2 separate regions of the Homo sapiens genome follow, and region 2 is linked to region 1. The links come from fine-mapping of genetic effects on plasma protein levels. Region 1 holds a variant in brackets. A gene starts in the other region. All regions are shown on their reverse strands.

Region 1 (2,909 bases):
TTTTCTGGTCTAGGAAGCAAAAGAAGGGTGACAATGGTTTAGTTACCATGCCCCAAAAGCTCATGTTCTTTTCCAAGTCTTAGGGGTTTCCACAGCACAGGGCAGAACTATTAGAAGGGAAGGAAAATGCTGCTGTCACATCACACTGTATATGAGGCAATGTACTTTTGAGATTTAGAACATGTGAAGAGTTGAAAAGGTTTCTGCATTTGGTATCAACTGACATTCTTTCAGGAGTAAAATAAAGCTTTTCAAAGTGTATGAAATAATACATAAAAATATAGAATTTTATTTATTTACTTTTATTTTTATTTTTTTAGACAGGTTCCCACTCTGCTGCCCAGGCTGGAGTGCAGTGGTGCGATCATGGTTCACTGCAGCCTCAAACTCCTGGGCTCAAGAGATCCTCCCACCTCAGCCTCCTAGGTAGCTGGGACTGCAGGTGCGCACCACCATACCTGCCTAATGTTTAACATTTTTTTTTTTT[TTA/A]TCTTTTGTCGAGATGGGGTCTTGCTATGTTGTCCACGCTGGTCTCAACTCCTGATCGAAAGCAATCCTCTCACATCCACCTCCCAAAGTGCTGAGATTACACATGTGAGCTACCACACCCAGCCTATGTTTGTGTTTATAGCAAGATCTTCTACAGTACATATACTGTAAAATTATACTTCCTTAGTTCTCTAGTGCCTTCCTTTCTTCCCCTTTTGAATTATAAATAAGAGCATCTTCTCACTTCAACTTCTATTTCTGCATATTCTCCAATACCTTCCTGGGCTCCTGTGCCAACCCATGCCCTTTATATCTGGGCTCAGTGTTGGCGTTTCCTGATTTGAAATGCAAAATGGCTGAAAATGTTAGCAATTTAATTTTTCCATTATGACAAATATTAGGCATTCACCTTTATCCATGCCTACTTATTCTGGCAAGGCTAAGGATATTTGGCAAAGTGATTAGAAAACAGCAGTATCAAAGATAATTTCCAGTTGGGTGCGGTGGCTCACATCTGTAATCCCAGCACTTTGGGAGGGAGGCCCAGGCAGGAGGATTGCAACGTAGCAAGACTCCATCTCTTAAAAAAAAAAAATAGCAAGAACAAAAAAGAAAAAAAAAATTAGCCAGGCTTGGTGGCACGTGTCTGTAGTCTCATCTACTAGGGAGACTGAAGTTGGAGAATCACTTGAACTGGGAGGTTGAGGTTGCAGAGAACTATTATTGTGCCACTGCACTCCAACCTGCATAACAGAGCAAGATTCTATCTCAAAAACAAACAAACAAAACTAAAAAACCCAAAACAAACAACAACAACAAATATACATATAGAGAGAGATGACTTCCAACATTAAAATATATCTCCAGTAATTGATAGTTTTGAAGAAAATATTGTAATCTTTGGAATTCTTATTAATATAGAAACAATATTTCTGTCCTGATTATAGGAACTCCTTTCTTTTATTGTTTGGAGCACAGAGGGGCTGCTGAAATGGAGAGTCTCAAGACTGATACTGAAATGCCGTATCCTGAGGTAATAGTAGATGTGGGCAGAGTGATTTTTGGAGAAGAAAACAGGAAGAAGATGACCAACAGCTGTTTGAAAAGATCTGAGAATTCTAGAATTATCCGGGCTATATGTGCACTGTTAAATTCTGGAGGTGGTGTGATCAAAGCAGAGATTGATGATAAAACCTATAGTTACCAATGCCATGGGCTGGGACAGGATTTGGAAACTTCTTTTCAAAAGCTCCTTCCTTCAGGTTCACAGAAATACCTTGACTACATGCAGCAGGGGCACAATCTCCTGATTTTTGTGAAGTCATGGAGCCCAGATGTTTTCAGCCTTCCACTAAGGATTTGCAGCTTGCGCTCCAATTTGTATCGGAGAGATGTGACTTCTGCTATCAACTTGAGTGCTAGCAGTGCCCTGGAGCTTCTCAGAGAGAAGGGGTTTAGAGCCCAAAGAGGAAGACCAAGGGTGAAGAAGTTGCATCCTCAGCAGGTTCTCAATAGATGCATTCAGGAAGAGGAAGATATGAGGATATTGGCCTCAGAATTTTTTAAAAAGGACAAACTCATGTATAAGGAGAAACTCAACTTTACTGAGTCAACACATGTTGAATTTAAAAGGTTCACCACCAAAAAAGTCATACCTCGGATTAAGGAAATGCTGCCTCATTATGTTTCTGCATTTGCCAACACTCAAGGGGGATATGTCCTCATTGGGGTGGATGATAAGAGCAAAGAAGTGGTTGGATGTAAGTGGGAAAAAGTGAATCCTGACTTACTAAAAAAAGAAATCGAAAACTGCATAGAAAAATTGCCTACATTCCACTTCTGCTGTGAGAAGCCAAAGGTAAATTTCACTACAAAAATCCTGAATGTGTACCAAAAAGATGTCCTGGATGGTTATGTCTGTGTGATTCAAGTGGAGCCCTTCTGTTGCGTGGTGTTTGCAGAGGCCCCAGATTCCTGGATCATGAAAGACAATTCTGTCACACGGCTGACAGCTGAGCAGTGGGTGGTCATGATGCTGGATACTCAGTCAGGTAAAGGGAAGTGAAGTCATTGTCCCCATCAGCAGGGAGGAACCCCTTTCTCTGCCTTTTGTGGGTATTTGATCACATATGTTAGTTAAAAAATAGAAATTTATTTTTCTTATAAGTGTTCTCCCATTACAGTGTTCCTTATCTAACATTTTTAGTTCCAAAGACTCAGAATATAAACTGAGGTCAAGAAATGTTTGGATTCTATGGCCTAAACAACTTTTTTTTCTTTAGACTCTGTCACCCAGGCTGGAGTGCAGTGGTGTGACCTCGGCTCACTGCAAACTCCACCTCCCAGGTGCAAGTGATTCTCGTGCTTCAGCCTCCCAAGTAGCTGGGATTACAGGCACACACCACCATGTCGGCTAATTT
Region 2 (2,909 bases), not on the chromosome of region 1:
AACCAAAAGCCAATACAGGTTGGCTACACAAGGTCATCAGCCTAGGGCAGGAAGTGGGCAACGGGCGCTGGCCATTTGGAAGAAAATGTGAAATCAGAGAGTGAACATATTTAAGCCATTAAGTTTGAATCTCCTAACTGGGCTCCTCATTTCCTGCCCTGTCTCTCTACAGTGCATTCTCCACAACACAGACAGGGGGATCTTTAAAAAATATAAATCAGATTTTCAGTGTTCTGTTGAAAACTTCCTTAACGAGTCTTCTCTTTGTATCTAGAACAAAATCCAGGCTTACTATGGTCACGGGCCCTACATAATCTGGTCCCCAGCTACCTCTCCATACTCCTTTACTCCTTGCTCCACAAGCCCTCCTCACCCCCACCCGCACCTGCCAGTCTTACAGACACAGGGCAACTTGTTTCCCCTTTGAAGGTTTTGCTCTAGCCGTTCCCTGTGTCTGAAACACTGTGTCCCTAGATCTTTGGATGGCTGGTCCTTTCAGCTTTCAACTCAAAGTTCTCCTTTTCGACGAGAACTCCCCTGACCCCAACCCAGGCAGTCCCCTTCCCACTCTCATTATACAGCCCTGCTTAGGCTGTCTCACGGAATTCATTATCTGAAGCTGTACTACTTACTTGTTTGCTTCATTGTTTATTTCCTCCCTGCCCCTTTAACCCAACTTCCAGGAAACCAGGAACTTAGCTTTTCTTATCCTGCTGCATCCCCAACCTCTACAACCGTGCCTGGCACAGACTGAGAGGCACTCAGCGAAAACCTCTTGTGTGGTGGAATGCTTGACTTTATAGAGGGCCCAGGGTTCAAGTTGGCTAGTGGCAGAGAGGGCTTACAACCTAGTTCTCCTGACTAATCAGAGGTAGAACTAAAGACTGGGCTCCAGCCCCTCATTTTTTTTTTTTTTTTTTTTTTTTTTGAGACGGAGTCTCGCTCTGTCTTCCAGGCTGGAGTGCAGTGGCGCGATCTCAGCTCACTGCAAGCTCTGCCTCCTGGGTTCACGCCATTCTCCTGCCTCAGCCTCCCGAGTAGCTAGGATTACAGGTGCCCGCCACCACGCCCGGCTAACTTTTTTGTATTTTTAGTAGAGACAGCGTTTCACCGTGTTAGCCAGGATGGTCTCAATCTCCTGACCTCGTGATCCACCCGCCTCGGCCTCCCAAAGTGCCGGGATTACAGGCGTGAGCCACCACGCCCGGCCCAGCCCTTCTGGCTAGAGCTGCAGGTCAGCGTTTAGGGAGAGTTTAAAGGATCTCTACAGGAACTTATAATGACAATAATGAAAAGAACAATAGCTGATACCTACTGAACACGCTCTATGTGCCAGGCACTGTTCTACGTATTTAATCTGAGTTTCATTTACGCTTCACGACCACACTGCGCGGTAGATACTATCATTACCCTTACTTTATGGATAAGGAAACTGAGTCACTGAGTTGTTAGGTTACCTGCCCAGCATACAGCTGAATATAAATCGTACGCTGCTATCAAAACTTTCTTTTGCTCTCACTCCGTCACACTGGCTGGGGTGAGACGATTTCTCGCATGTGACGACCCAGGACAGCCCCAGCGCCTCCGGGTCACAGGCCCCCGGACGTCCCAGGGCGCGGGCGCTAGGCGGGCGGGGAGGGGGGAGGGCGCAGGCCGGGATTGGTGGAAGAGAAGAGATTGGTGGAAGACAATGGAAGTCTAGTAGCGGAAGTCCCGCCCAGCCTAGGCCGAACTTCCGGCTCTCACTGCTAGGGGCTTAAGCGGAGGGAGTCGAGCCAGCGTCGCCGCGATGGTGTTGTTGGAGAGCGAGCAGGTATGGCTAGGCCTGGCCGGCCGAGGGAAGGGGGCGGCTCAGGCGTTACTCGAGACCTGTGCCTCCTGCAGGAGGACCAGGGCCTTGACGCGGCAGGACGAGGATTTGGGGCTGGCTAACGGGGCTGGGCCTGTTGTTTTCCAGTTCCTGACGGAGCTGACCAGACTTTTCCAGAAGTGCCGGACGTCGGGCAGCGTCTATATCACCTTGAAGAAGTGTAAGCAGCGGGAGGGGAGCCGGGCGATGCTCCCTGGGTTCCCGGTGTCTGGGAGCCACCGGAGTCTGTCTGCCGCGGACCGCCGCCTTCCTCTACCTTTCCCCACCCTGTACTGAGCACATTCGGGGCTTCGGGCCCGGAAAATAGTAGGGATTGTAGCTGGCTCAGTCCCCAGCACTGAGCCGCCTAGGTTGCTTCTGGTAACAATGGGCCCCAAGCAGCCCAGGGCTCTTTGTCAGGGATCCCAGACGCCGCCACTTTGAGTGGAATTTAACGTGCTTCGATATTACATGTTTCCGTCGTGGAAATAATAGTTTCTCCAGGGTTTCGCCAGACCGTGATAGCAGATGAGGTGTTTAACAAAACTAGAGCAGCGGGGCTGGGTTAGGTCATCACTTACCCCACTCCTCTGTTTTAACTGTTTGTCTGCCGCTCAGCCACGTACGCGGCCGTGTTCACCAGGATGCATTTTTTCCTTCAGATGACGGTCGAACCAAACCCATTCCAAAGAAGGGTACTGTGGAGGGCTTTGAGCCCGCAGACAACAAGTGTCTGTTAAGAGCTACCGATGGGAAGAAGAAGATCAGCACTGTGGTGAGCTTAATTTCTAAGGCTGTCTTTTGAAATGTAAAGACTTGAACTTAACAGAGGATGGGGCGTTTCTGAACCAGGCTTTTATTTGTTTTTCCCTTTTGCCCTGTGTGGCTATTTTTGAGACCAGGACCTTCCTATACTTTAGTAGTGGAAACCTCAAGAATAAAATAAGAAGGTAGAGGTCAGACAGTCGTTAGTTCTGCTAAAGCTCTTGTGGAAATGAAAGTAGCATATTGGTCCTTATTCGTAGTACTGTAAGGAGCAGCTGGCATAAATATTTGATTC

Direction of the effects. Positions count from the first base shown, and alleles are read on the strand shown. Strength reflects both the effect of a copy and how common the allele is.
With allele A in place of TTA in region 1, the plasma level of the protein whose gene starts at base 1,725 in region 2 is higher (moderate association).

Evidence for each region. A credible set is the group of variants that fine-mapping cannot tell apart. PIP is the chance, under the fine-mapping model, that this variant and not a neighbour inherited with it causes the effect. Protein levels are from antibody-based Olink assays in UK Biobank. Linkage for the fine-mapping came from a reference panel and not from the study's own genotypes, which makes the PIPs less certain.
Region 2: it holds the start of SRP14, and the variant in region 1 is the best candidate, but not a certain one, in a credible set for the plasma level of the SRP14 protein (UK Biobank, PIP 0.67).

What each region holds. Positions count from the first base shown.
Region 1 is chr17:35,556,634-35,559,542 of GRCh38, reverse strand. SLFN14 (schlafen family member 14) reads left to right here. Exons shown (of 6, transcript NM_001129820.2): 3 at 1,437-2,540. The coding sequence starts at 1,481. Among named protein-coding and RNA genes, the nearest start is that of SLFN14, 2.7 kb to the left of the region's middle. The variant TTA/A (reference allele first, on the strand shown) is at 488.
Region 2 is chr15:40,037,997-40,040,905 of GRCh38, reverse strand. It overlaps SRP14 (signal recognition particle 14), which reads left to right and starts at 1,725. Exons shown (of 5, transcript NM_003134.6): 1 at 1,725-1,813; 2 at 1,958-2,030; 3 at 2,512-2,624. The coding sequence starts at 1,790. SRP14-DT (SRP14 divergent transcript) reads right to left here and starts at 1,595. Exons shown (of 3, transcript NR_040060.1): 1 at 1,458-1,595. LOC124903471 (a long non-coding RNA gene) reads right to left here. Exons shown (of 2, transcript XR_007064596.1): 2 at 2,497-2,909. RefSeq lists a silencer at 1,522-1,731 and enhancers at 817-1,761, 1,812-1,991, 2,012-2,061, 1,762-2,707.